Linked DNA regions of Homo sapiens: regions 1, 3, 4, 5 and 6 are each linked to region 2. Evidence: fine-mapped expression QTL. A gene starts in region 2. Each other region holds a variant in brackets. All regions are shown on one strand. Distances are between the middles of the regions.

Region 1 (5,076 bases), 63 kb before region 2:
TTAGGGTCTTCCTTGTTGGTTTGTTGTGTTCTTTTGCCAAATCCTCTATTTCTCTGATGTTTTCAAAATATGGGTGATGCAACAGCTGTTCACATGTCAGCCTTTGAGTAGGGTCCATGTGGAGACAGCCCTAAAAGAACAGAAAATTCCTTCTTCTTACTTCTTCAAAATTGTATTAACTTATTAATGTCATTTTTTTCTTCTTTGAAAGATGAAACTTCAGTTGCAATAAGAAGGGGGAAAAGGCAGGAAAACACACCAGTCATGATTTTAGTTCCTTCCAGTCATTCCTAAATGGCACTCACATATTAAATAAATAGTTTCTAGAAGTAGTAATGAAAAATCATTTTCTCCACCTTATTCTGTTCTTGAAGCAATTGGTACTCTGCCCTGGGAGAGTAAGATATAATTTTAGAGTTTACCTCAGTGGCCAAATGGGGTAATCCATTTAGCCAGTTTGGTCCCTTGCATGTACTTTGTAAAAACTAGTGTTTTTATTTTAAAAATGATATTTACACATGATAACAAATACAGTTAATACAGCATACAGCAAAGTCTCCACCACTGTAGGTGTTCCCTTCACCCTTCTAAAATCAGCTACTTTTTTTTTTTTTTTTTTTTGGTGTATCCCTCCAGAAATAGTTGATGCATTATAAGTATATATGATCATGTATATAAGGAGAGGCATAACGTACATGCCTTTATATTACATCATTCTTAACTATTTTTGTTGCAACTAAGTAGGCCATGGAGCTCATTCTTGGATAGATTAGATTAAATTTCACAACTACATACTCCAAGGAATTGACTCAGTTTTTGTTGGTTATGTCAGAGGTGTTGAAACCACAGCAACACCATCTTGAATAGGGGCTGGGTAAAATAAGGCTGAGACCTACTGGGCTGCATTCCCAGGAGGTTTGGCATTGTTACTCACAGGATGAGATAGCAGGTCGGCACAAAATATAGGTCACAATGACCTGATGATAAAACAGGATGCAGTAAAGAAGCCGGCCAAAACCAAGATGGTGATGAAAGTGATGTCTGGTTGTCCTCACTCCTCGTTGTACACTAATTATAATGTGTTAGCATGCTAAAAGACACTTTCACCAGCACCATGACAGTCTACAAATACCCATAGCAATGCCCAGAAGTTACCCTAAATAGTCTAAAAAGGGGAGGAACCCTCAGTTCCAGAAAATCCCTGCCCTCTCCTGGAAAACTCATAAACCACCCCTTGTTTAGCATATAATCAAGAAATAACTGTAAGTATACTCAGTTGAGCAGCCCACAGCACTGCTGCCTATAGAGTAGCCATTCTTTTATTCCTTTACTTTGTTAATAAATTTGCTTCCACTTTACTGTGTGGACACGCCCTGAATTCTTTCTTGCATGAGGTCCAAGAACCTTCCTTTGGGGTCCGGATTGGGACCCCTTTCAGGTAACAGTTACATTATCATTTATATTAACTCATTATTTAATACATCAGTAAATAAATAATTTTTAAACCATGTGGGACATTGACTGTAACTTGCAAACATTTTAGTTGATACCATACCTCATTTTACATAAGAGCTATATTTCTAAATATATATATATATAAATATATATATCAAGTTTTTAAATGTACTTCAAATGTACCAGGGAGTTAGCTATTTAAAAGGATCCTGCAGCTAAGGATTTTCTGAAGAAAAAGTTCCCTTTGTAAAACAATCACCACCCCCCTGAAATTTCTGTTTTGTGTAAATTTAGACTTCAAATATAATGTTAGGTTTATTTAAAGTGGAAAATACTTGCAAATGTTTTCTTAATAGGATGTGATCCATTTAAAAAAATTGAAAATATACTTTTCCAAGGAGAATTTTTTTTTTTTTTGAGACGGAGTCTTACTCTGTCACCCAAGCTGGAGTGCAGTCGTGCAATCTCAACTCACTGCAACCTCCGCCTCCCAGGCTCAAGCA[A/G]TTCTCCCGCCTCACCCTCCTGAGTAGTCGGGATTACAGGCGAGCGCCACCACGCCTAATTTTTTTTATTTTTAGTAGAGACGGTTTCACCATGTTGACCAGGCTGGTTTTGAACTGACCTCAGGTGATCTGCCTGCCTTGGCCTCCCAAAGTGCTAGGATTACAGGTGTGAGCCACTGCCCAGCCAGGAGAAGAATTCTAAAAGGAACACTTTTCATTGCATGGATTGACATAAGTAATTCAGATTCCCCAGTGATGACAACTGCTGTGTGCTTCCTGGTCTGTTGGAAGCCATGATTTTTACCTTTAGGAGCCCCAGGGCAGGATAAGAGATGTTTGGGAATTTTAATTCAAGTGGTTCCTGTTGAAAAGAAAAGAGGTTTTTAATTTACAGCATGTATTCAAATTAAGGTTACCTCAAATTAAATCTTTTGATAGAAACATTTTCCTGGCACCTTCCTCACGTCCTCCACCCTTTGCCCACCCAACCTCCTGCCCAAAACAGTCTCCCTTTGCCTTTTTCACAAGCTTTCTCTCCCCACCTCCAAATCGCTTTTCCAAATTTGCTTCGTAACTACTCCCTTAACTTCCTGCTCTGATACCAATGGAGATAGCAAATTATAAATAAAAATACTAATGAAAAAAAACTTTTCTGAGCAGTTTTTTTTTTGAGGGGGTGGGGGGGCTCAAGTTATATAACTTGCCTTTCCTGAGAATAATTTTTGGCATTTATAGTGTGATTTATAAAAAGGTAGCTGGCTGGGTGCGGTGGCTCATGCCTATAATCCACTCAGGCCAAGTCTGATGGCTTGAGCCCAGGAATTTGAGACCAGCCTGGGCAACATGATGAAACCCTGTCTGTCTCTCTAAAAAAAATACCAAAAAACTAGCTGGGGGTGGTGGTGTGCGCCTCTAGTACTAGCTACTTGGGAGGCTAAGGCGGGAGGATGGCGTGGGTTTGGGAGATTGAGGCTGCAGTAAGCCATAAATGTGCCACTGCACTCCAGCATGGGCGACAGAGCAAGACCCTGTCTCAAAAAAAAAAAAAAAAAAAAAAAAAGGCAGCTCTAATTCTAATTATATAAAGGGAGCTGCAAAATAGATGTTTTTCCCCTACCCAGGTGAACAGATGCTTCTTGATTTTCTGGAATAAACACTGTTGTCTCCTCCCACTAGGGCCTGCTGCTTCCCTTCTCAGCCTGCTGTTTAAACAGTCTCCTGTGGGGCATTCGTCAATCTCCTTTTGGCCGTATAAGGCGATTTTGCGCCAGTCACGTGCTGGAGACAATCAGGAATAACACTATAAATGGGAGGAATGCCGAATGTCAGGCAGACAAACAGGCCAGTTAAAGAGACATACCACTGACAAAGGCTAATTGAGCAGAGAGGCTGAGAAAATAAGAGCCAGCCAAGCTGAGCAAAATAAGTGACTGCAGTGCATTGTGTGTATAAAAGTGGCAGTGTGTGAGCTGCCGACTGGAGTGACTGGCCAGGCTCATCTAATCAAACAGTCCTGGTGCTGTGGCCAGCTTTCACAGTACAGTATTATTTTGGACAGGCAACCAGCTCCCAATAACCAATTCTGGATTGTACACATACTAATCATTGATAAGAGTAGGAGAGAAGAGCCTCTGTTTCAGAGTTCCCTATGTCAACAGGAGAAAAAAAAAATCCTAAAGTAGGTTTGTATTAGCCCTTGACAGTAGCCCCTGTTGCACCCTCATACTTCCACTCATGCTCCATAGCTTAAATATTTCTCTTGTTCTTTCTGTCGGTTGAATCTGAGCATCACTGGGGTTTGACGTGCCATTGCTATATCATCGAGCTCTGCTGTCTCAGCAACAATGTCTGGATGAGGCCAACTGGTTGCCTGTGATACGCTGGAGCCCATCTGTGAGCGTTTCACAGCCCCAGAAGCAAGCAGGCCTCCCTCTGTCAGGGTTACTGACAGGCAGAGGGACTGGGGCACAGATGTTCAACCAGTGCAGCCCCCGCACTGCCTCTTCCTGTGTTTCTGTCAACAGGAAATCTGCAGGACAATCTCTGGGAAGCCATGGGAAGCTTCTTACATTTATGAAACCTGGGTTATTTCTGAGGCTTCACCAACAGACAAGTGAACAGGAAATCACTAGGGATATTTAGTGCACAACTGGGAATGTCCAGATCACAAGGAAGCCAGATGGGTCACCTCCCATATGTCAGGTGTCATTCCTGCCCCTCCGTCCCAGCAAGACCCACTTTGAATGCTAGTGCTACAGGAGGAAGAGGCAGTGGAGAAGCAGAAACCTTCATTGTGGGACAAGCCAAGAGGTTAGGGAACAAACAAAACACAAGTGGTAGAGACAGAACTTCCATCTGAAAACTGAAGGGTTTAGTGAGAAACTGGAGGGTTAGTTTCATTTTTAAGATACCTTCCTCAGTAGAAACTCAAGATTTCACAGACCTTAATTATGCTCTGAAATGTTTTTGATTACAATACAGGCTCATTAGAAGACATTCAAAAATATAAAAAATCATAAAGTTACCCCAAAATCCCACCCAAAAGAGATATCCACTCTTAGTATTTTGATATATATCCTTGCAGCCATTTATTTCACAAATGTAAAAAAAAAAAGCTTTGTGATTTCCCAGATGTTGTCACATTATTTTGTATTTATATATGTAAATATATGTATATATGCATTGTGTGCATATTACATTTTTATTAAAACTTTGTCAAATTATACATACTGGTTTTTTTGTTTGTTTTGTTTTTGTTTTTGTTTTGAGACGGAATCTGGCCCTGTTGCCCAGGCTGGAGTGTACTGACGTGATCTCGGCTCACTGCAACCTCCACCTCCCAAGGTCAAGCCGTCTTCCCACCTCAGCCTCCCAAGTAGCTGGGACTACAGGTGTGTGCCACCGTGCCTGGCTAATTTTTGTATTTTTAGTAGAGACAGGGTTTCATCATGTTGCCTAGGCTGGTCTCGAACTCCTGGGCTCAAGCGATCCACCTGCCTCGGCCTCCCAAAGTGCTGGGATTACAGGCGTGAGCCACCATGCCCAGCCTACACTGTTTTATAACCGTCTTTTTTTTTTTTTTTTAACTACATGGTATTTCTTATTTTTAGAGACAGAG
Region 2 (5,076 bases):
GGCCAGGCTCGATGGATCATGCCTGTAATCCCACCACTTTAGGAGGCCAAGGTGGAAGGATCACTTAAGGCCAGGAACTCGAGACCAGCCTGGCCAACATAGCAAGATCCCATCTCTAAAAAATGTTAAAAAAAATTAGAAAGTGATCATTTCACTTCTTTAAGAAAAACGCTTCTTTTTAGAAACGGGACATGATGATGCTCAGCAGTAAATACATATGAGGTGTAATGAGAATCTGTGAGCTTCCTAGCAGTTTGAAAACAGGTAAATGTTAATTCTCTTAATAGACTGAGTATACCAATAGGAAATACCTTAGAAGTTTAAAAATCAACAATGCCAGCAAAATTGAATTGTCTTACATTCCTATACTATCAAATTGTAATGGTCCTTGAAAACCCAGGTCTACAGGTGGGAGAGAAATTATGGGGAAGAAAAATAAATATCCCACAGCATCTCTAAAAGTGAATGCCACCTTACCTGGCACTTTTGTCTCTGCTTTCTAGTTCATTATATAATTAGTGACTTGTGCACAGATATCCCATTTGTGTCACTGAAGTCAAAAGGCTATGAAGTAAGATATAACCATGTCCCATGACATTCTTTTAACATAACATGACTCACTTTATTTCTTTCATCCCTAAAAATTCACTTTAAAGAAAAAGTGGATCCCGGAGCAGTGGCTAGAACCTGTAATCCCAGCTACTCAGGAGGCTGAGGCAGAAGCATGGCTTGAGCCCAGGAGTTCCAGGCTGCTGTGAGCTATGATCACATGGCTGCACTCCAGCCTGGGAGACAGAGTGAAACCCTGTCTCGAAAAAGAAAAAAAAGGAAAAGTGAATCAATTACCTTGAGCATTCGGATTTCCCGAAGGGCAATTTTCTTTATGACAGGGTCATCTTCTGATTCCAGAAACTTCTTGATGGCCACAATCTGACCCGTGTCCCTGTTTCTACATTTGAAAACAACTCCATAGGATCCTTCTCCAATTTTCCCAATTTTTTCATACTTCTCCATCATAGAGGAATAAATCTTCTTAAAATGGATCTTCAGCCGAGAATGGTGGCTCACGCCTGTAATCCCAGCACTTTGGGAGGCTGAGGCGGGCAGATCACCTGAGGTCAGGAGTTCGAGACCAGTCTGGCCAACATACTGAAACTCCGTCTCTACTAAAGATACAAAAAATTAGCCGGGTGTGGTGATGGGCGCCCGTAGTCCCAGCAACTCAGGAGACTGAGGCAGGAGAATCGCGTGAACCTGGGAGGCGCAGGTTGCAGTGAGCCGAGATCGCGCCACTGCACTCCAGCCCGGGCGACAGAGCGAGATTCCGTCTCAAAAAAAAAAAAAAAAAAAAAAAAAAAAGAAAGAAAGAAAAGAAAAGAAAGGATCTTCACATAGTTTGAAAACGTCGCTTATAAAATATTGGCACCAACGGACTGCACTAGAGCCCCACCCAACGATGAGTGTTTGTCACGGTCCTAGAACAGAACAGCACATGTTAAGGAATGAAGAGTGTACCCGTGTCGGCAATGGCAACGCGATCAGGAGTAACAGCCTAGAGTTAGCTGCCTCCAGTAACCCGATTTTAATCGCCCGTTAAATACCCTGTAAGTTAAAATGTAACTTGCCATCCTAAAACGAGCCGAGCTGTAAGATAAGCTATCTTTTTAACGTTATCGTTCATCCGATCTAAGACACCTGAGCTGGCTGGAGTACGGGGAGGGCTAAGGGCTTCCCCGGTTCTAATTTCGGGTCTCATTTCCCTGCGGCAAGAAGACACCTCCCGGCTCCCCGCGGAGGCGGCGGCGAGGCTTGGCCGCAGGAGACCAACCCGCGCCCCGCGCCCCACGCCCCCGGGACTGGGAAAACCCTCCCGCGCCCGGACGTGCACCTCAGCCGCGCCGCGCAGCATGGAGCGGTGCCACGTGTTGGCCAGGGACGGCCCGCGCCTCCTTGCCCGCCCGGGACTCACGGCGCCGCGGCGGTCAGGGACGGGCCTGGCTCCCGCCTCGCCTTCTTCCGCCCAGCTCGGCTCGGCGTGGCTCGGCCCGCGATCCCTATGGGAACCGGCTCCCGCCCCGGGTCTGCCTGGGCGGGGCCGCCGCGCCCCAGCTTCCCACCCCCGGCCCGGCCCAGCCCGGCCGCCCTCCCGGCTGCAGGGAAAGGCCTCGGAGGGCCGCCCTCCGTCCATGGGAGCTGTCCTGACCGCGGGCCGAGTCCTGCTGCCGGGAGAGCAGACCTGCTAGATTTGCAAACTTCCGCAGGCCGTGCAAAGCGCAGCTGTAACCGCGTCTGCGGAGCAAGACGCCTGCGCTAGGAGCCCCTCCTGAGCGGTCCACATTTCCCTGCAACAGCAGTCCCCACACCTCAGAACCGCGGTTATTCCCTTTGGTCCCTTGGAGGCATCTTCTGTGTCTGTGCTGATCAGTGCTGCGGCGTCAGTGAATGAATGAGAGGGAGAAAGGAAAGAAGAGGAAGGCGTGACTGCAGAAATTGCTTAAAGTCAGCACTTTCCTCTACAGTAGGGAAGGTTCCACGGCAGTCTTCTGCTGTGGGACTTTTCTGGTGTGGGAGGTGGAAGCTTACAGAGTCTGCCTTAATTGTTTTTGGTTCCTTTCCCCCATCTTTCTCCCAACGGACTCCTACTGCTCAAATCTGAGCACACTGGCGGGAAGCGGATGGACCTGGGGAAATTATGAAATCATGTCAGTTGCCACTGGGCAGAGTGCCTCACACTTTATCATCCGTCCCGTTCCCAGTGCCAGCATCAATGCGGGTACTTGTCCTGGAAGCAGTACCCGAGGAGAGAAAATTAACACAGTGTCTATGAAACAGGGGCCAATCCCGTGTCAAGCAGCATGCTACTAAATGTAAACCCAGGAAGGGTTCAGAAAGGAGCCTGGAGCTGAGGAGAGAGGGCTGGTGGCTGCCCTGGAAACCCAGTACAAGGATGGCCTAGAGGTGGTCTGTGAACAGAAATTGTTTGCAAATGGCAACCATTGATCTGTTTTCTGTCTCTATAGTTTTGCCTTTTCCAGAATGTCATGAAAATGGAATCAGACCGTATGTAGCCTTTTGAGGATAGAGGATCTCCCCCACCACCCCAACTCCAGTGAGCTTTCAGATGAGATTGTAGCCCCAGATGACAATGTAAGTTCAATCTTGTGAGAGACCTTGAGCCAGGGGCACCCAGCTAAGCCATACTTGGGTTCCTGACCTCTAGAAACTGAAATATGTTTGCTATTATGTTTTGGGGTAATTTGTTATGCAACCATATGTATCTAACACAGAAGCCTTTTATTAATAGGAGGTTGAGAAAGTTCACTTTCATTCCTAGTTTGCTTAGTGTTTTTGTTTGCTTTTTAAAATTATGAATGGATGTTGAATTTTATCAAATGCATTTCTTCATCTAGAGGTGATCATTTCCTTTTCCTTTCTTTTCTTTTTTTTTTTTAATTGAGAGGGAGTCTCGCTCTGTCACCCAGGCTGGAGTGCAGTAGTGTTATCACTGCTCACTGTACCCTTGAACTCCTGGGCCTAAGCAATCCTCCCACTTCTGCCAGGCCTGAGTAGCTAGAATTATAGGTGTGCACCACCTAATTGTTTTTATGTAGTCTGTTGATACGGTGAATTATATTGATTTTTAGATGTTGAACCAACCTTTTGTTCCTGGGATAAACCCAACTTATTTATGATTTTATCATTTTAATGTATTGCTGGATTTGATTAGTAATATTTTATTGGAAATTTTTACATTCATGTTTTGAGAGATATTGATGTATAGTTTTCTTGTAATATCTGCTAATTTTGGCATCAGGATAATGCTGATCTCAGAAAATGAGTTGGGAAGTGTTTATCTTCCCTTTTATTTTCTAGAGATGTTTACATTAAATTGGTATTATTAATTCCTTAAATGTTTGGAAGAATTTTTTTTGTTTTTTTTTTTGAGACAGTCTTGCTCTGTCATCCAGGCTGGAGTGCAGTGGTGTGATCTTGGCTCACTGCAACCTCTGCCTCCCAGGCTCAGGCGATCCTCTTGCCTCAGCCTCCAAAGTAGGTGTGCCACCACGCCTGGCTAATTTTTGTGTTTTTTGTAGAGACAGGGTTTCACCATATTGCCTAGGCTGGTCTCCAACTACTGAGCTCAGATAATCTGCCTGCCTCAACCTCCCAAAGTGCTGGGATTACAGGCATGAGCCACTGCACCCCGCCTTCTAATATAAGCATTTAATGCCATAATTTTTCCTGTAAGCACCACTTTAAATACATCACAGAAATCTTAATATGTTGTATCATCATTTTCATTCAGTTCAAAATATTTTTTTTTTTTTTTTTTTTTTTGAGATGGAGTCTCACTCTGTCACCCAGGCTAGAGTGCAATAGTGTGATCTCGGCTCACTGCAACCTCCGCCTCCCAGGTTCAAGCGATTCTCCCACCTCAGCCTCCCAAGTAGCTGGAACTACAGGCATGCACCATCATGCCCAGCTAATTTTTGTATTTTTAGTACAGACAGGGTTTCATCATGTTGGCCAGGCTGGTCTTGAACTCCTGACCTCAAATGATGCTCCCGCATTGGCTCCCAAAGTGCTGGGATTATAGATGTGAGCCACCATGCCTGGCCCAAAAATATTTTCCTTGTGACTTCCTTTTTGACTCATGGGTTATTTTTGTAGTGTGTTAATTTCCAACTATTTGGTGATTTTTAAAGATATCTGTTATTGATTTCTAGTTTAATTCCATTATTTTCAGAGAACTCAGTTTATATGACTTAAATTCTTTGAAATGTTTTATTTTGTTTTATGACCCAGAAAGAATATGGTCTATGTTCATGAATGTTTCTTTTTGACAATTAAAAAAAATATTTTGAAATGAAGTGAGAAAGTCAGTGTGAATTTCCCCAGAGCTGCATCGTCTGAAGTTCATACCAGGTTAAATCAAGTTTGTCTGGAAAATTAACTTTATGGACTCCACAACGTCAGTACCCAAAGAGCCTGGAACTGTGCCAGGCCTAGTGGTAGTTAAAGTAGGAGCCAGTGTACTGGTTATTTATGCCCAAGTAGGCAGTGAACCAGAAAGCT
Region 3 (5,076 bases), 240 kb before region 2:
TCGAACTCCTGACCTCGTGATCTGCCTGCCTTGGCCTCTCAAAGTGCTGGGATTACAGGCGTGAGCCACCGCGCCTGGCCTAATTTTTGTATTTTTAGTAGAAATAGGGTTTATCCATGTTGCCCAAGCTGGTCTTGAACTCCTGGGCTCAAGTGATCTGCCTGCCTTGGCCTCCCAAAGTGTTGGGATTACAGGCATGAGCCACTGTGCCTGGCCATATTTTCTTATATTTAGTTTGAAAAGGGATCTGAACAAGATTGCACATATTGCACTGAGTCAATGTGTCTCAAGTCTCCTTTAATCTACAGGTTACTGCTTTATTGCATATTTTTGCTTGCACTTTGTGGAAGAAATTGTCATTTGCCATGTTTTTCTGTCCTCTATATTTTCTGTAAAGCAGAGATATAGTGACTTGGTCTGATTCAGGATTAATTTTATGACACAAATACTTGCCAAGAATACTTCTAACAGGAGGCATATAATGTCTAGTTAACTTTTTGTGATAGTACCCATCCAGTCATGATAATTCCCTAGGTTTATTATTTTACTAGGACCTGAGAAATGTGATATTCTACCATTCCTTCTTCACTTACTAGCTGAAATACTTCCACAAAAATAAACTTTTCCTCATGAACTATTTGGTTATTCTGAAGTATAACTAGTATAGAAAAGAACTTTGGACATTAACATAACCATTTACTTAATTTATTCTAATGTGTGTGTGTATTTTAGAAGCTTCTTAGATTGTGTCTAATCCAGTATTCTCATTTAGAATATAAATTTTTGTTTTTTGTTTATTTTGAGACAGGGTCTCACTCTGCCCAGGCTTGTGTGCAGTGTTGCAATTTCGGGTCACTGCAGCCTCGAGCTCTGGGCTTAAAAGTGATCGCTTCACCTCAGCCTCCCGAGTAGCTGGGACTACAGGCACATGCCACCATGCTTGGCTAATTTTCATATTTTTTGTAGAGACTGGGTTTTGCCATTTTGCCCAGACTGGTCTCAAACTTCTGGGCTCAAGCAATCAGCCCGCCTCTGCCTCCCAAAGTGCTGGGATATTCTAGGTGTGAGCCATTGCACTGGCCTAGAATACAACTTGAAAATGTAGTATTATGACAATTTCAAGGCACACATAAAAATGTATCATAAACATCTCAAAGTAGAAACAAAGGAATAACATTCTTAACTTTAAATAATATTCCCCTTAAAGAACAAGTAGAACACGAAATAAGTTACACTTGTTATAGTATTTGTAATGCCCTATAATGTCAGATAAAACATAAATGTTCTTGATTCAATAATATACATTTGATGACACATTTGTTTAAATGTTCATGGCCTAGGGTTTCATTTCTTGGGCTATGATTCTGAAACTTAAAATAGAAAACTCCTCTCTTTCAGATTTCAGAAATATACCAAAAACATTTCCAGAAGATGTAAATATTATAAGAAAGCTGTTAATCATTAAAAGAATAAGATTAAAGAAAGAAAACATAAAATTACACATATTTTTATTCAGTTGAAGAAATGGCAACCTTGCAATGAGATAAAATTAAATAGCTTAAATTTATTAAAAAGAACTTTCGACTTCTTTAAAAGAAATATTCTCCTCAAAAACTTGAAAAGGCAAAGTTCTGAGACCTCAGATGATTGGTCTAAACATATGTGAGTTTCTTGCTGTCTATAAAAAACATTCCAAATGTTATTTCAGCTTTTTAAAAATGAAAAATGCTGGCCAGGCATGGTGGCTCATGCCTGTAATCCCAGCACTTTGGGAAGCTGAGGCAGGTGGATCATCTGAGGTCAGGAGTTCAAGACACCAGGCTGGTCTTGTGGTGAATGTGGTGAAATACCATCTCTACTAAAAATACAAAAATTAGCCAGGCGTGATGTCATGTGCCTGTAGTCCCAGCTACTTGGGAGGCTGAGGCAGAAGAATCACTTGAACCTGGGAGGCGGAGGTTGCAGTGAGCTGAGATGGCACCACTGCACTCCAGCCTGGACAACAAAGCAAAGCTCTGTTTCAAAAAAAAAAAAGAGAGAGAAATGTTTTAGTTTCTTAAAGTCACACAAATTTGAACATAAACTCATGTTCAATATAAGATTCAATCAAACCTTTATATAATATACCTCTTACACTTGAAATGAAGGATTCTAGTCTTTCAAGCAATTCCAAGTCTCTTTCAAAGTCATAAAAATGATGTTCAACCCAATGCCGAAATACATTTAAGATCCTGATAAAATGGAAAGAAACACATTTTAGTGAAACATAAGTGTTCAATTACACTTCTTCCTTCTCTAATGCCACGATAATAGCTTTACATACAAGGGTCAACATAATACTCAAAGACTCTCTAATCTGTATTTAATTAATACTTTAAATGCTTCAATGACAAGAGGAGAGTAGGTCTCCAAACGGTGTATTATTTATTAATAAAATGTATACTTTTAAAATATTTATAAGCATAAAAATAGTGGTTTCTGTGCTTCCCATTTATGTTAAGGAAAAGTACCCTTTATTCATATGTAGAAAACTTATGCTCTATATTACAAAAGCTATTTTAAGTTCATAAAAAGCATTTTTAAGATTTAAATTTTGGTACTTTTTCACTTAAAATGGAAAACCAACTAAGATGTACTGTATCTGGTTCTAAATGCAAGTGCTATCATCAAATTTCTTTCTTTTTTTTGAGATGGAATTTTGCTCTTGTTGCCCAGGCTGGAGTGCAATGGTG[C/T]GATCTCAGCTCACTACAACCTCCAACTCCCAGGTTCAAGTGACTCTCCTACTTCAGCCTCCCAAGTAGCTGGGATTATAGACGCCCGCCACCATGCTGGGCTAATTTTTGTACTTTTAGTAGAGACGACGTTTTACCATGTTGGCCAGGCTGGTCTCGAACTCCTGATCTCAGGTGATCCGCCCACCTCAGCCTCCCAAAGTGCTGGGATTATAGGCGTGAGCCACTGCACCCAGCCTATCATCAAATTTCTATGTAATCTACACATATACTACAGTCTCTTATTTCATTTCAAAAGACAAAAATAGAACTGTTTTGTTTTACAGTATCACAAAAATGATTACCTATAACCTTGCAAAGAGAGATTTAATCAACTATGCAAATGGAAAGGAAAGGAAAGACAAGGGGAGAGGGAAGAGGAGGGAAATGGAAGAGGAAGAAGGGAAAAGGAAAGGGAAGGAAGGAAACTAGTAGGCAAGCCATGGAAAGAAAATATTTGCAAAATGTTTATCTGACAAAGGACTGGCATTCAGTCCTACCCAATTTACTCCTACAACTCAGTAATAAAGAGACAAGTATCTCAACAAAAATTAGAGGATTTGAACAGATTCTCCACAAAATAAGTATGAATGAAATACCACTACATCCAGCAGTATGGCTAAGGCACAAAGACTGACATTACTAAACACTGGTGAGAATATGAAGCAACTTGAACATTGTTGGTGAGAATGTTTTGGAAGTTTTGGCAGTTTCTTTCAAAACTAAACATACACATACCTTCTGACCCAGCCACTCCACTCTGAGTTGTTTACCCAAGAAAAGTGAAAAATATTCACAGTAAGACAGGTAAGATAAAGTTCATAGCGGCTTTATTCATAATAATAAAAAACGAGAAAAAGCCCATGTATCTTTCAATGGGAAAAATGAATAAACTGGTATATTCATATAATAAAACACAACCTCGCAATAAAATAAGCCATTGATACAAATTCAAAAGCATGTTGAGTGAAAGAAGACACAAAATTGAGTTTTTAAGAATGCATTTATTAAGACTCTAAAACAGGTAAAACTAATCTATGGAGGGAGAAATTGGAACACTGCCTTTGGGCAGTGGGAACAAAAACTGATGAGAAGGAACATAAGGGAACTTTCTGGGGTGTAGTAACATTTGATATCTTGAAAGGCGTTTGGATTATGGAGATACATGTATTTGTTAAAACTCAACAAAAGTACACTTAAGATGTGTGTATCTTCTGTCTTCAGTGGCAGCAAGAAAAAAATGTATTTAATTATATGCACATTTTAGAACAAAAGAAAAACAAACACTGAACTGTTAATGACATACAAGTTGAAGTATTTAAGGAGTGTACTTCAAAATTCATACAAAAAAATGAACTGATAGATGAATGATAAATGAACACATAAATGAATAGATATGAATAGATGAATACATATCTAGGTGGTGGGTTTATGGGTGTTCATTGTAAAATTCTCAGTTTTGCTGTATGTTAAAATTTTTCATAATAAAATGTTAGAAAAATTACTACCACCCATTTTACTAGAAATCTTTCAATATTTATATAAACAGGTTTAATAACTTGGCTTGGATTTCACAGTTTTCCACTCCATCCAATTCCATACAGGTAATCTCATCTACTACTTGCAATACAATGCCTACATTCCTCTCAGGTCAATGTCCTTATCTGTGTCCTCAGCACACCATTCTCATTTCTGCCTTCTTGTCTTTGTTCATACTATTTCTCATGACCCTGAATACCTACAGTCACCTTTCTACCTATCTAAAGCCTATACATCCTTTAGGGGCAGTCTCAGATTTTACCTTCTCCAAGATGCCTTCCCTAATTACTCTGGCCTAATCTTTGCTATTCCTGAAATTGTATAGGGATGTATTTTTCTAAGTCACTTAAGCACTCCAAGTAGAACAATATATAACTGTTTCATGTGTCTTTTTCCCCCAGTAAAGTCCCCAAGAAAGCCACAATATCATGACAGTCTATGTTATTTTTGTACTTAGCATAGTTATAAGTACAGGACTGAGAACACAGCAAATGCTTAGAAATACATAAAGAGCTTATATGACTGAGAAACGAAGATTATACTCCCACCCCCTACCCCACCCAATAGCAACCTCATAAATGTATGTGTCATATCAAGGGATTTAATGTGATTGTAGATAAGTACAAATGCATCACAGCTAGTAGAAAAGAATTACTTATTTATTGCTGATACATAAATAATCTCATCTTCTTATACAAAGAATGACGTTAAAAGTTTTAGTGAAAGACATATAGCTGGGAGCACTATCATTCTTCTAAAACTGCAT
Region 4 (5,076 bases), 210 kb before region 2:
TCAAACTAAAACTTTAAACTACTGCCTTAAGGTACTTACCAAAAGACAGAAAAATGCAGAGGTCTTCCTTTCCTAGACCATACATCTTTTTCACCACCTCCAAATGAATGACTCTAAATATCAGAACTGCATAACGGAAAATGATTTCACCCCAGTATAAACCTCCTTCTAATTTTGTGCCTAATTTTCATTGTCACTGTACCTATTATATAACAATTCACATGTTTATAAAGCCCACAAATACATGAAAGTATTTTTAATGTACTCATAAAGTATTTAAAGTTACTATTTATGGGCTGGGTGCAGTGGATCATGCGTATAATCCCAGCACTTTGCGAGGCCAAGGCAGGTGGATCACTTGAGGTCGGCAGTTTGAGACCAGCCTGGCCAATATGAAGAAACCCCATCTCTACTAAAAATATAAAAAAATTAGCCGATTGTGGTGGTGCATGCCTCTAATCCCAGCTACTCAGGAGGCTGAGGCAGGAATTGCTTGAACCCGGGAGGTGGAGGCTGCAGTGGTGCGAGCTGAGATCACGCCACTGCACTCCAGCCTGGGCAACAGAGCAAGACTCCGTCTCAAAAAAATAAAAAAAAGTGACTATTTATGATTTTAAGCTGGTCTGGTTTTTTGGGGTACACAGAATTTCAAACCCAAAAAGGTACTTACAGAAGGTTTAAACAGCTTTCTATCAGAAAGAAAGGCTTCTCGAAACACTTTTATGATCATATTTAATTCCCGTAGATACTGTCTTTCTTCTGCGATTTCAGTTCTGACAAGATCATAGTAGTTTAATTCACCAGAAGAACTAGGTTCATCTTCACAGAGAGAAACCAAACCTATGTCATCCTGATCAAACATGTCCATCAAAACCTGAGAAACAGAAATCAATAATGTATAAATTTATTTTCTTTACTTTTATAAAAACTGCCTCAAAGTACTTGAAATCTATACGTTATTAAACAGGGCTGGGTGTTGTAATCCCAGCACTTTGGGAGGCCAAGGCAGGAGGATCACTTGAGGTCAGGAGTTCAAGGCCAGCCTGGCCAACATGGTGAAACCCTGTCTCGACCAAAAATACAAAAAATTAGCCAGGCGTCATGGTAGGCGCTTGTAATCCCAGCTATTTGGGAGGCTGAGGCAGGAGAATTGCTTGAGCCTGGGAGGTCAAGGCTGCAGTTGAGTCATGATCACACCACTGCACTCCAGCCTGGGCGACAGAGCGAGACTCCATCACACACACACACACACACACACACACACACACACACACACGCACACACAAATATTACACAATGAGTTGTGTGTATTATAAGTAAATTTATATGATAAAACCTAGAATAAAAGGAAAAAAAGTTGTTGAAGGTGGGAAATATTCAAATAAAATCGAGTATGGCAAAATAAATATTTCTGGAGATATGAACTAATGGTGAAATATGTACTAATACATATGTATATGTATATATGTATACTGTAATACACACACACACACACACATAATAGCAAAAAAAAAAAAAAAAAGCAAGCCTGTCTTTGGGGAACAATAACCCGAGCCAAAAATCCCAGTTCAGCCACTACTCGACTATGATTATGAACACATTTATTCTTTTGAAAGTCACATTCCTTATGAGTAAAATGTAGCTGATAAGAAGAATTCAATGTGGTAATGTATATAAAATGCATACTACTACATCTAGCAAATAGTAGGTATTCAACATGGTAGTTCCTTGCCATATTATAAGGATGACAGTACATATTTGAGTAGGGTTAAAAGGAGAAAAGTGAAATGCTACTATGGTAGAGGCACACGATAGATCAGTGCGATGCATTTCTGATGCACATTTACTACAATGACCACTGCTATTACGTTCATTTGCTAAACCCAAACATCTCACAGATGCTTAAATTGTTGTAGCAACCACTTCTTCTTTCAGAAATGCTACCATGGACTTAGGTCAACCAACAGGCAAGAACTAGCTATAAATCAAAGTGAAAAAGAAAGTTGACTATACTTTATTTTTTATTTTTTTTTTTTTTGTGAGACACAGTCTTGCTCTCTCACCCAGGCTGGAGTACAGTGGCATGATCTCAGCTCACTGCAACCTCCGCCTCCCAAGTTCAAGTGATTCTCCTGCCTCAGCCTCCTGAGTAGCTGGGATTACAGGTGCACGCCACCATGCCTGGCTAATTTTTTTTTGTATTTTTAATAGAGA[C/T]GGGGTTTCACCATGTTATTCAGGCTGGTCTCGAGCTTCTGACTTCAAGTGATCCACCTGCCTCAGCCTCCCAAAGTGCTGGGATTACAGGTGTGAGCCACTGCGCCTGGCTGTGACCATACATTTTATAATTAATAATACTTTTTTTTAAAAAAAATGATTGGACCTAGTTAATTATATATTTAAGACTGACCGAAACGTACCCAGAGAGTTCAGCATAAAGGTATACCCTGAAAAGGAAACTACAAAAAGTAAAAACTTCAAAGGGATGAGAGGAAATTCTGACAACACAATAACAGATATTCATTCATTCATTCTGAAAAACATCTACTGATCACCATAAACTGTACCACATGTTGGTAAAATATGCTAATAAAGTAAACATGAACTCTGCCTTCCTAATCTTTTTGAATCTAACTCAGAAATATCTTATAAGCATCTTTTAAATCTGGTCAGCTCTCTCCATCTTACCGCAGGCTTTAGATTACTCCACTAAACAATCACCATCTCTTAAAAAGATACACAAGTTTCATAATTTGATCTGCCTGCCACAGGTCTTCCCAACCCCAGTTCTAAAATCATGTTACTAAAAATAAATGATACATAAAAATGATACTGGATTTCATTGCCTTCTGCATAAAATCCTAACTTCTTTAGGATAAAGGCCATTCATAATTTAACTCCAACCCACCTTCCTAATCTCATGTTCTGTGACACTCTCAAATCCCTCCCTTCCCCACTGCTTACTCCATGCAATCCACCTTCTTGTCATTGGAGACCATCATCCCCACTTCCCAGCCACTTTAAATTTAAAGAAACCAGTAAGGCTACACAGGGAATTTGGTGATGAACTCTGATTTCAAACAGACATGCAAAATAAAGGAAGACATAAGACATAAAAACACACAGAAGAGCTACCACCCTCTTCTCTTCCCCACCAGAGACCCTTTTAGAGTAGGTCATACTTGCTAGCTGTAACTTCTTGCTCCCATTCACTTAGCAAGCCCATTACTATATTAAAACTGCTCTCACTATTGATCTAGTGTCAAATCTAATGGTGTGTTTTAGTCTTCCTACTTGTTTTCTCTAGTTTTTGACACAGCTGACCATTCTCTCATTCTTAAAACTCTTAAAACTCTCAGGGCGAGGCATGGTGGCTCATGCTTACAATCTCAGCACTTTGGGAGGCCGAGGCAGGAGGATCACTTGAGGCCAGGCATTCAAGACCAGCCTGGGCAATATAGCAAGATTCTATCTCTACCAAAAGTAAAAAAAAATAATAACCAGGTATGCTGGTAGACACCTGCGGTCCTAACTACTCTGAAGGCTGAGGTGGGAGAATCACTTGAGCCCAGGAATTCGAAGCTGCAGTGAGCTAATATTGTACCACCACATTCTAGCCTGAGTGACAGAATGAGATCCTATCTCTAAATAAGAAAAAACACATATAAACCCCCCAGCTCCAAACAATTTTTCTCTTCTTGGCTTCTGATACACCATTCTGTCAGTGGGGCCTCCTCTATGACTTACCTTCTCTACCACCCACTCCAGAGTTCCATTCTTAAAACTCTTTTGGTCACATAATACCAAAGTTCCTGAATTTAAATGCTACAGGGGTCAGGCAAGTAACATTATAATATATAAGAAACAGTGGGGATTATGGTAAACCGGAAGGTACATGCACCTAAAGAGGAAGTGTGCTGCTCAGTGCCAGCTGTTTTCTGTTAGGCATTCTGATTTTCTTTTTTCATGAAAAGTCTGGGATTTACATTTTTATGTAAAATTTTTAGATCTGTAAATATAAATGGATGGCAAATAATTCAAAAATTTAAAAAACAAACCTAGAGACCCTATTCACTAGAAGGTCACCAGTCTGAAACTGGGAGGATTGCTTGAGCCCAGGAGTTCAAGACCAGCCTGGGCAACAAAGAGAGACCCAGTTTCTACAAAAAAATTTTAAACACAGCCAGGCATGGTGGTTCAAGCCTGTGGTCCCAGCTACAAAGGAAGCTAAGGCATGAGGATCACTTGAGCTCTGGAGGTTGAGGCTGCAGTGAGCCGTGTTCACACCACCGTACTCCGGCTTAGGTGAGTCCTTGTCACAAAAAAAAAAAAAAAAAAAAAAAAAAAAAAAAAGGAGCGAGCAAGCTAGCTCTTGAAACAGATGGAGTAATACTACCATGAAAGAGAAAATATATTCATACCCCACTCCTGTTAGCTTCAGATTTTTCTGGCCAGGCATGGGTGGCTCACGCCTATAATCCCAGAACTTTAGAGGCCAAGGTGGATGGATCACCTGAGGTCAGGAGTTCAAGACCAGCCTGCCCAACATGGCGAAACCCTGTCTCTACTAAAAGTACAAAAAATTAGCCAGGCATGGTAGCACGCACCTGTAATCCCAGCTACTCAGGAGGCTGATGTGGGAGAATCGCTTGAACACGGGAGGCAGAGGTTGCACTGGGCAGAGATTGCGCCACTACACTCCAGCCTGGGCGAAAGAGCAAGACCTTGTCTTTAAAAAAAAACAAAAACAAAAACAAAGGCCAGGCGCAGTAGCTCATGCCTGTAATCCTAGCACTTTGGGAGGCCAAGGCAGGCAGATCACTTGAGGTCAGGAGTTCGAGACCAGCCTGGCCAACACGGCAAAACCCTGTCTTTACTAAAAATACAAAAATTAGCCAGGCGTGGTGGCAAGTGCCTGTAATCCCAGCTACTCAGAAGGCTGAGGCAGGAGAATGGATTGAACCCAGGAGGCAGAGGTTGCAGTGAGCCAAGATCACGCCATTATACTCCAGCCTGGTTGAGAGAGTGAGAGTCTGTCTCAGAAGGAAAAAAAAAAGTATAATTCAATAGGTTAAAAAC
Region 5 (5,076 bases), 170 kb before region 2:
AGAATAACTTAAGATTTTTAGTTTGAGCAACCGGAAGGATGGAGTAGCCATTTATTGATATGTTAACCACTACAAAAGAAACAAGTTTGCAGGGGAAGAAAAGGATACAGTGTTGGTTGAGATGCCTCTGTGGAAATATCAAGTAAAAAGTTGGCCGGGTGTGGTGCTTCATGCCTGTAACTCAAACACTTTGGAGGCTGAGGCAGGAGGAATGCTTGGGCCCAGGAGTTGGAGACCAGTTTATGCAACACAGTAAGACCCTGTCTCTACAAAAAGTTTTTTAAAAATTGGGGCTGGGCGTGGTGGCTCATCCCTGTAATCCCAGTACTTTGGGAGGCCGGGGCGGGCAGGTGACGAGGTCAACAGATTGAGACCATCCTGGCCAACATGGTGAAACCCCGTCTCTACTAAAAATACAAAAAAATTACCTGGGCGTGGTGGCACACGCCTGTAGTCCCAGCTACTCGGGAGGCTGAGGCAGGAGAATCACTTGAACCTGAGAGGTGGAGGTTGCAGTGAGCCAAGATTGCACCACTACACCCCAGCCTGGCAAAAAAGCGAGACTCCATCTAAAACAAACAAACAAACAAAAAATTAGCTGGGTGTGGTGGCACACACCTGTAGTCCCAGCTATATGGGGGCGGCAGGGGGGTGAGGTGGGAGGATCATTGAGCCCAGGAGGTTAAGGCTATAGTGAGCTGTGATCTTGCCACTGCACTCCATCCTGGGTGACAGAGTGCGACCCTGTCTCAAAAAAAGAGTTGAACATTCATGTTTAAGAAAGAGGTCTGAGCCAGAAATGTAAATTTGGTAATTATCAGATTTAGATTATACGTGAAGCAATGAGGCAGGATGGCATCTCCAAAGGAGGATGTGTTAATAGAAATAGAAGTCTAAAAATTGGCCAGGCGCAGTGGCTCACGCCTGTAATCCCAACACTTGGGGGGCCGAGGCGGGCAGATCACAAGGTCAGGAGTTCAAGGCCAGCCTGGCCAACATGGTGAAACCCCATTTCTACTAAAAATATAAAAAAAAAAAAATTAACCAGACGTGGTGGTGCGCGCCTGTAATCCCAGCTACTCGGGAGGCTGAGACAGGAGAACTGGTTGAGCCTGGGAGGCAGAGGTTGCAGTGAGCCAAGATCGCACCACTGCACTCCAGCCTGGGTGACAGAGCAAGACTCCGTCTCAGGAAAAAAAAAAAATATATATATACACACACACACACACACACACACACACACACACACACACACACACACACATATATATAAATGGGCTCTGGGGAGGTCAGAAGGATGTGGTCACAGAAAGATGAGGAGGAATCAAGGGAAGGGAAACTAGAAGGAATATTCAGAGAAAAAAAATCCCTGAAAGCTTGATATTCTTCTGGAAGCCAAATGAAGAAAGGATTTCAAAAAAAGAAGAGATCAACTGTCAAATGCTGCTAATAGGTCAGTTAAGAAAGAACTATAATATACTTTGTATGTAAGAAGTAGTTTTTGGCAGGCAGGTGGCTCACTCCTGTAATCCCAGAACTTTGGGAGGCCAAGGCTGGAGGATCACTTGAGTCCAGGAATTTGAGACCAGCCAGAGGACATAGCAAGACCTTGTCTCCACAAAAAAAATAAGAAAATTAGCTGGGTGTAGTGGCACATGCCTGTAGTCCCAGCTACTCAGGAGGCTATAGTGGGAGGATCATTTGAGCCCAGGAGTTGGAGGCTGCAGTGAGCTATGATCATGCCACTGTACTCCAGCCTGCGTAGCAGAGCAAAACCCTGTCAAAAAAAAAAAAAAAGAGAGAGAGAGAGAAATAGTGTTTGAGTTTACAAAATGACCTAATGAGGAAGAAAACTGGAGTACAGAAAACTTTACTTAGAAGAGCTAATACTAGTCCTTATATCTAGATCTTGGTATTATTTTCATCTTGTTGCTTCACTTCTACATGTTAAAATGTGAATGTGTAATACTTTATCCATTTGAAAAAACTTTGTACTAGCATATATTCTTATGTAAAAGAAGAAAATAATTTTTTATGGACATGGGGTCTCGCTATGTTGGCCAGGTTGGTCTTGAACTCCTGGCCTCAAGCAATCCTCCCATCTCAGCCTCCCAAAGTACTAGGATTACAGGCATGAGCTACTGCACCTGGCCCATGGAAGAAAATAATTTTTGGTTGTTAATTTTTAACATGAGATAATGCTAAATCCACTAGTTACATTAAAATTCCTTTTGATTCAAATATGCAGGATATAATCAAATTACTGTTCCCTTGAAAGAGAGTCCATGGTTAATACAAAAGACATATAGTTGATTTATGTCAAGGGGTAACACAGGTAATGCTTTGAATACTCAGCATAAAACACTTTAATGGAATATTATTGCTCCAAATATACCATACCAAAATTAAACCAAAAATAGAAGGCTACTTAATCATTGCTGACAGGGAGCCAAGTACAGCAAGTTAAAGTACATTCCTACCGCTCATCTAGTTCTGGCTGAACTCTTCGGGTCAGTTTGGGTCATTATTAGTTTGG[A/G]ATAATTCCAAATGACTCCCTCGAGTTCTACTGTTACATTCAGCGGCTTTAGGAATTCCAGAACAGGCTCATGTCACAAAAATCACAGGATCTCTTATTAGTTTTTGGCTTTGACTTGAAGTAATCTTTTCAAAAAGCAATTCTGATCAAGTTAATCTAATTACTTTGCTATGTAAATGAGAACCCAACAGGACTTCCTATTCTCAGGCAGAGACCTTAACTCAGTGTACCTACAGTCTACCATACTAGCTTCATCCACTTATTCTTCTTGTTTTTTAAAATAAGTCATTAAATTCAGAATCTGAGACCTATTCAAAACAAACAAACAAACAAATCATGTTCTTACTTTCCCCTCAGCCTCAAATCCTTCCCCCCCGCCCTTTTTTTTTCTTGTTAATTCTACTGATCTTTCAGATAATTGTTTACTTCCTTATTGTCTGTCTCTCTGCCACAGCCACTTAGAACACAAGCTTTATAACAGCAGGGGCTCTGCTACATCTTCCGTATCAAGAACAGTGTCTGCAGCCAGGCGACGTAGCTTACACCTGTAATCCCAGCATTTTTGGAGGCCAAGGTGGGAGGATCGCTTGAGCCCAGGAGTTCAAGACCAGCCTGGAGACAGTAATATTACTATATTTGAATATATAATCCAGAAAGAAGCACAAATGTTGCTTGCTTAAAGTCTTCTTTGACTCTCATATATCAATGACACCAGTTATATTTTCTCAGATCACCCTGTACTTTTCTTGTGGGCCTCAGGAAAGATCCAGTGCCATCTTCTAAAACAAACTTCCAAGAGACATTTGTACAAACGCAGAAACACTAGGATCTCAGTAGAACTTCACAAAACCATTTTTAAATCAAAGCCCCTACCGATCTTTTTCCTTGCCGTAGACTGCTATTAATTAACCCAGACATTCTCTCACACCTCTTGCCTTTTAGATATCTAAGAGCAAATTGTCACAGGGTGGGGAGGTCGATATTTAACCTGAATCTAATTGGACTCAGGAACAAAGTAATTCAACCAATTCTTTCTAGCTTTCTCTGACATTTTTAACTACAGCTGGCAAGAAAACAGCCATGTTCTTTTCTATGGCTAGCCTGGTGAAAAACACCTTACAGAAAAGACATCTACAAAATAAATATCAGGGACTGTAAAATCTGATAAAATGATTTTGAGGCATATTTCCCATATGAAGAATGCTGATTTATCTCAACATATAATCAAATAACACATGCATATAGTACCAAGGGATTTCAACGACACAGGTAATAAACTGCATTTACAAATATACACCATGCTCTTTTTTCCCCAAGTAACACAATAGCTTCAATGATCTTGGGGAGCAGTGGTGAAGGCAATTATGTTCTAGGCTCTTTTAGGGAAGATACATAATTTAGCAGTAATGTTAACAATCCATGCATTATCCATTAGTAGTGTCATTTCACTCTGCTTTGTAGCTCTCTGTTTTTAAATGATCTAGGTGAGGTTCTATTTTAAAAGTTTAAGAACAAGCAAAAAGCTAAAGAACACCACATTTCTATTCCCAAAATTATTTTTCCATAAACCTATTTGTCTATCTCTGTGTTTCTTTTTCTTTCTTTCTTTCTTTTTTTTTTTTTTTGAGACAGAGTCTCGCTCTGTCGCCCAGGCTGGAGTGCAGTGGTGCGATCTCAGCCCACTCTAACCTCTGCCTCCCATGTTCAAGAGATTCTCTGCCTCAGCCTCCCGAGTAGCTGGGATCACAGGCATGCACCACCACACTTGGCTAATTTTGGTATTTTTTTTTTTTGAGACAGAGTCTTACTCCATCGCCCATGCTGGAGTGCAGTGGCGCGATCTCGGCTCAACTGCAAGCTCCACCTTCTGGGTTCATACCATTCTCCTGCCTCAGCCTCCCGAGTAGCTGGGACTACAGGCGTCCGCCACCACGCCCGGCTAATTTTTTGGGTTTTTTTCTGTATTTTTAGTAGAGATGGGGTTTCACCGTGTTAGCCAGCATGGTCTCGATCTCCTGACCTCAGGTAATCTGCCCGCCTTGGCCTCCCAAATGGGATTACAGGCATGAGCCACTGCGCCCAGCCCATCTCTGTGTTTCTATGTAATGCAATGAATACTTGAGATTGGTTTTTTAAAAATCCCTTGAATTTTCAATGTTGACAATGGTGACTTTGTCAAATACATATATATATGGATCTATATATGGGTATATATGGATATATACATGGATATAGACATAGATATCCAGTTTTCATAAAAACTAGCCAAAACTGGAAAATAAGCAAAAGAATACTGGCTGTGTTTCAGTACAGTGCTATGCTTGAATCTTTTATTAATTTCTACTGACTATTTTACACATCTATAAGATTAAGTTACAGCTTTTCAGCAGATAGAGATGCAAGTAATTTTTTTTTTTTTTTTGAGATGGAGTCTCGCTCTGTCGCCCAGGATGGAGTGCAGTGGTGTGATCTCGGCTCACTGCAACCTCTGCCTAGCAGGTTCAAGTGATTCTCCTGCCTCAGCCTCCTGAGCAGCTGGG
Region 6 (5,076 bases), 50 kb before region 2:
CTATCTCAAACATCTGTGACACCACTGGGAAACTGCCTGGTAACTTAAGCTCCATTTTCACAAGGAATTTTTTATTGATGTAAAGTTAAGTTACTATTCAGCACAAAAGATGCTGTTTATTTTCTCAAGTTGCCCCAAACAGACAGCCTTGAAGCAGGACTCATCTTCCATGTGTGGGCATGTGGTCTCTCAGAGCAGCATTGCTGTTGTTTGTTTGGTTTTTTAGATAATGAAGACTTTACTGATTATAGCAAAGAGCTTTACATTGCAAACCATTCTATTTGTTTTTTAGCATCCCAGATCTGCCCTACCAGGGTCTTGATGCAGTCTCTCTTGCTCCCCCATCGTAAATTGTTATTAAATGTTAATAATAATTTAAAAACCTGAGGCATCCTGGTTCTTTCCCTATGCTGCCATGGCAGCCAGCTGCAGCCCAGGTACATCTTTCTACTCTCTCCTCCATCACCACAGCTAAACTTCAAGCCACTGCTCCCAGTACTTCTTCCCTGACTCACATCTTTTATTACCAGGGCAACCAGTAGTTCCAGCAGGTACTTTGTGTGAATTAGAAAGAGGCATCTCGCCTGGAAACATTTAAAACAACAACAAACCAAGGCAGGGAGTGTAAGAAACGAACCACAGAGAGAGTGCATTTATTTTCTGAGACCCCAACCCACTGGCTGGACTTACTGTTTTGATAAACATTCCACAGTGTTGCTGTGGTCCTCAGCCAAAACGAATAAGTAAATCAGGGAGGAAGCTCTTGAGTAGCTGTGTTAAGGGGACTACAAAAAGTCACTTGTAGCCTCTGAGAGAGGCTACAAGGCCACTGTTGTCACAGGCCAGACGTTCAGGAAATCCTTTCAAGCAGATCAGGGGGTGTTTGAACAGAGAGTGGGATCACATGAAGGAAAGGAAGAGGCCACTTCCAGGAAGGCTAGTTGGGACATTGCTGGACCAGGTCTATGTCCCTGTGTTTGAAGTTGCTTCTCTCCAAATTCTCTTTTCCTTGTTTGAGCGGCATATAGGCATAGATGCTAGAAAAAGTCACTGTCGAGAAAAAAGGCTTAGAAAAATGCAACTAAGATGAGACATTAGGGGGAATGCTTTTCCCCAGCCTCCACTTTTAATTTTTTTTTTTTAGGGTCAGGGTCTTGCTGTGCTGCCCAGGCTGGAGGCAGTGGTGCTATCATAGCTCACTGAACTTTGGACTCCTGGACTTAAGGGATCCTCCTGCCTCAGCCTTCCCAGTAGCCTCTACATTTTGTCCAGAAAAATGGAATATATTTTGATTATTCAATAAATTAAATTTTTGGTTTTTTTTTTTTTTTTGAGATGGAGTCTTGCTCTGTCACCCAGGCTAAAGTGCAGTGGTACAATCTCAGCTCACTGCAAACTCTGCCTCCCAGGTTCAAGCGATTCTCCTGCCTCAGCCTCCAGTAGCTGGGATTACAGGTGTGTGCCACCACACTCAGCTAATTTTTGTATTTTTAGTAGAGACAGAGTTTCACCATGTTGACCAGGCTGGTCTCAAACCCCAGACCTCAAGTGATACGCCCACCTCAGCCTCCCAAAGTGCTGGGATTACAGGTGTGAACCACCATGCCCGGCCTGCAAATTAAGTATTAATATAGGGTTACCAGTACCAGGCAACTTTAGTTCCTACAAACATTTCCCCAAATAAATTATATAAAAGGAGCATATAAAAGTAAATTATAGTTGCATATCATTATTGCTCCTTTAATCCCCAGCACAGCTAATCCCCAGAATTACAAAACTCTCAAATGTAAAAACTCTGTACAAACTACTTAGTGCCATCTTGAACTGGCTACTCACTTCACTTCTTTACTCAGTTTCTTTTCTGTAATGCAGAGGCCTCAGACTCTGAGATCCCTTTTAGCTGAAACACTCATAATAAGAGGGGCCAGTTTTTCACTGTTGGAGAAGGGAGTTACAACTATAAAAAGGGGAAAAATAGATAGAATATATTCTGTGGTGTTGGATTTAGAGAGAGAGAGAGAGAGACAGCGTGAGAGTGCTGTGCTAGAAGGGGTTGATCACCTTATATAGGATGGCCCAGAAAGGTTCTCTGGTTAAGGGAACATCTAAAATAGTGGTTAAGTGGTGAGAAGTGGCCAGATTTGGGCTATATTTTTAAAATAGAGCTTCCAGGATTTTCTGAGGGATTGGATGTGGGAGAAAGAGAAGAATCAAGGAATGACATCAGGTTTTTAGCTTGAGTAACTGGTACACAGTGGTGCCTTTTACTCAGGAGAACACTGGAGGGGAAACTGGTTTGGGGGAAGGGAATGCTTACTGGACACCCAAAGGAAGACTGTGAGTCAGCAATTCTACATTCAGAAGGAAGGTCAGGCTGGAAATATGAGTTTGAGAAGCATAGCATATGGGTGGTATTTGGGGCCTAGGACTGAATGAAGCCAATTAAGGAGTGAATCCAGCTAAAGAAGAGGAGCT[C/T]GGAAGGAAGCTGTGAGACCCTTCCCCACAGAGGAGCAGAAAGAGGAAGGGGACCCCACAAGGGCACCTGAGTTGAGAGCATCAAGTGAATAAGACAACACTCAGGAGAATACAGTATCACAGGACCAACTGAAGAAAGTGTGTCAAAGGACTTCTGAATTAAGATGATGGATTAAGCAAGCCCAGCTAATTTTGTTCCCTCCTGAAACCTGACTAGAACTACGCTGAAGACTTCTAAAGACAAAACCTCACAAGGTCAGAGAGGACAGGAGAAGAGATAACAGCAACACAATGTGGAATCCAGAAAGCAACTGAATGAAAGATAATTAACTTAACAATCCTAGAAAGCGAAAATCTAAGCCAGGAGAGGGAAGGTGGAGAACCAACCAATTCATCCAGAAAGAATCCTCAAAAGGCTCGGGAAGTAGCAGCCAAAGTCTCTATGGAACTAGGAGCTAAGGAGTATGGAAAAAACTGTTTAGAAAATAATTAAATCCCTAGATCCCCTCCTCTATCATTTGCCCATAGGGAAACACTCTCCACTACTGGGCAGAAGGCTGGAGCTTTGTTTCTGGAAAGGATAAAGCAGAGGACATTTGGCATACGTGAGATTGTGGATACCGTTCTGAAAATGTGGATACTGTTCTGAAAACAGGGGATTAAAGGACTGTACACATACAAAATGCTGAATGCTGGGATTCCCCACCCCTCTTCCCTCACTAGACTCTGGGAAACCCGGCAGGCAGACTTCACTCTCCAGGCACAATATTCAAAGACTTTTTTGGGAGAAGCTCAGAGGGAAAGCTCTGAAGATTCTGACACTGGGGTTCCACCAGCAAATGGCCCAGCTAGAAAACCATAGTGAAGCTCAGAGCTTCCAGTAGTTCCTTGTTCTTAACTATGAGCATATAACCAGAGACTATATGATGCCCAAGAAAAGCCTCTAATAAGAAAGTAGAAGACCAGAACAAACAGAAAAAAGCAACTTAAAAGAAACAGAAATTATGGAGGATGAAGAGAACATTTTTAAATACCATTAATATCCTCAGAGAGAACAGGAAAGCTGTTGTATCCATGAAATAAGAACAGGATACTACAAGAAAATGGGAGGACCAGTTCAAGAGTCCACATCCCAATAATAGAGGGTACAGAAAAAGAAAATAGGTAAAACAATGAACAGGAAGTCAATAACAAAACAATTCAAAAATTTTTTTCTGAGGCAGAAAAGGCCCAGCAAGTGCCAGGATAATGGATGAAAATCAAGACACACTCATGAGTTTCATAATCAAAAACACTGAGCACAAAGAGAATCTCCTACAAGTTTCTGGAAAAAGAAACAGGACTTCACAAGAGAGCAGAAAATAGAATGGCATCAGGCTTCTTGGCACTAGAAGATAGAAGACACTAAAATAATGACTTCAAAAATTTGAAGGAATATTATCTTCAACCAAAAACCAATAAACAAGCCTATATCCAAACAAAATACCAAACCAGTGTGAGGATAGAATAAAGCATGTGAGGGCAAGGTCTCAACCTCTTATTTGTTCCTGTACCTCTCATCTGCTCTTTCTCAGGAAGCCCCTCATGGATGCAGTCCACCAGAAAGGAGCAGTCCATTATCAAAGAAGATTATGTGGGCTGGAGACCCAATGCAGGAGGGAAGCAGCAGGAGTTTCTGGGAGGATGGCAGAGGGAGATGACGGGATAACTGCACTCCAGGTGGCAAAAGCAACCCATCCTGACAGGACAGTGTGACCCAAGAGCCATGCACAGTAAGGGGTATCATCGCCATGCCCTCTGCCTCATGCAATCTTAAATAAATATGAATATATTCAACAAACTTAACAGCTCTGGAAGAGTCTGGGTGACTGGCTGGACCCTTCAGGCTAAGGCAGATGTTTTGATGTTCTTTGTTCTTCTCTCTTGTCTTTTTGTTGTTGTTGTTGTTGTTGTTTGTTTTTTGTTTTGTTTTTTTGAGACGTTGTCTCCCTCTGTCACCCAGGCTGGAGTGCAGTGGTGCTATCTTGGCTCACTGCAACTTTCTCCTTCTGGGTTCAAGCAATTCTCCTGCCTCAGCCGCCCAAGTAGCTGGGATTACAGGCACACACCACCACACCCAGCTAATTTTTGTATTTTTAGTAGAGATGGGGTTTCGCCACGTTGGCCATGGTTGGCCAGGCTGGGCTCGAACGCCTGACCTCAGGTAATCTGCCTGCCTTGGCCTCCCAAAGTGCTGGGATTACAGGTGTGAGCCACCGTGCTTGGCCAATACTTTTTTTGCAGAAATGGGGGTCTTGCTGTGTTGCCCAGGCTGGTCATGAACTCCTGGGTTCAAGTGATTCTCCTGCCTTGGCCTCCCAAAACACTGGGATTATAGACATGAGCCACTATGCCTGGCCTAAGGAAGATGTTCTTAAAATTGTAGCCCGTGCTAGCAAGGCTAGGGAACTCATTCCACCTTAAGATATTTGTTTCCACATTGGTGGTAAATAGTGGTTGTGGCTGAGCTCTAGGGCAGAGTGGGGAAGGGCTAGAACAGGTATGAAGAAAAGGGGCTCAATTCCTTCTCATTCTTTACTCCCTTTAATAGCTCTTCTAGCT

Direction of the effects. Alleles are on the strand shown, and positions count from the first base shown. SD is a standard deviation of normalised expression in the study named. Not every link is listed here.
For the expression in cerebellar hemisphere of the gene that starts at base 2,027 in region 2, allele T in region 3 goes with a lower level than allele C (large effect, 1.0 SD a copy in GTEx).

Evidence for each region.
Region 1: its variant is fine-mapped to the expression of CDKL1 in whole blood (TOPMed, PIP above 0.99).
Region 3: its variant is fine-mapped to the expression of CDKL1 in cerebellar hemisphere (GTEx, PIP 0.96).
Region 4: its variant is fine-mapped to the expression of CDKL1 in blood mononuclear cells (TOPMed, PIP 0.94).
Region 5: its variant is fine-mapped to the expression of CDKL1 in whole blood (TOPMed, PIP above 0.99).
Region 6: its variant is fine-mapped to the expression of CDKL1 in whole blood (TOPMed, PIP 0.92).

The regions. Positions count from the first base shown.
Region 1 is chr14:50,332,303-50,337,378 of GRCh38, forward strand. CDKL1 (cyclin dependent kinase like 1) reads right to left here. Exons shown (of 10, transcript NM_004196.7): 8 at 2,263-2,319; 9 at 1-130. Among named protein-coding and RNA genes, the nearest start is that of DMAC2L, 23 kb to the left of the region's middle. RefSeq lists an enhancer at 3,241-3,862. The variant A/G (reference allele first, on the strand shown) is at 1,959.
Region 2 is chr14:50,394,855-50,399,930 of GRCh38, forward strand. It overlaps CDKL1 (cyclin dependent kinase like 1), which reads right to left and starts at 2,027. Exons shown (of 10, transcript NM_004196.7): 1 at 1,970-2,027; 2 at 847-1,475. The coding sequence starts at 1,014. RefSeq lists silencers at 1,731-2,180, 2,120-2,345 and an enhancer at 1,939-2,438.
Region 3 is chr14:50,150,943-50,156,018 of GRCh38, forward strand. SOS2 (SOS Ras/Rho guanine nucleotide exchange factor 2) reads right to left here. Exons shown (of 23, transcript NM_006939.4): 13 at 2,128-2,231. Among named protein-coding and RNA genes, the nearest start is that of VCPKMT, 37 kb to the left of the region's middle. The variant C/T (reference allele first, on the strand shown) is at 2,733.
Region 4 is chr14:50,187,827-50,192,902 of GRCh38, forward strand. It overlaps SOS2 (SOS Ras/Rho guanine nucleotide exchange factor 2), which reads right to left. Exons shown (of 23, transcript NM_006939.4): 5 at 671-874. Among named protein-coding and RNA genes, the nearest start is that of SOS2, 41 kb to the right of the region's middle. The variant C/T (reference allele first, on the strand shown) is at 2,215.
Region 5 is chr14:50,223,102-50,228,177 of GRCh38, forward strand. The region is part of intron 1 of SOS2 (SOS Ras/Rho guanine nucleotide exchange factor 2); the gene reads right to left. Among named protein-coding and RNA genes, the nearest start is that of SOS2, 5.9 kb to the right of the region's middle. RefSeq lists an enhancer at 2,707-3,233. The variant A/G (reference allele first, on the strand shown) is at 2,537.
Region 6 is chr14:50,345,337-50,350,412 of GRCh38, forward strand. All of the region lies in intron 3 of CDKL1 (cyclin dependent kinase like 1), which reads right to left. Among named protein-coding and RNA genes, the nearest start is that of DMAC2L, 36 kb to the left of the region's middle. RefSeq lists an enhancer at 2,175-2,469. The variant C/T (reference allele first, on the strand shown) is at 2,476.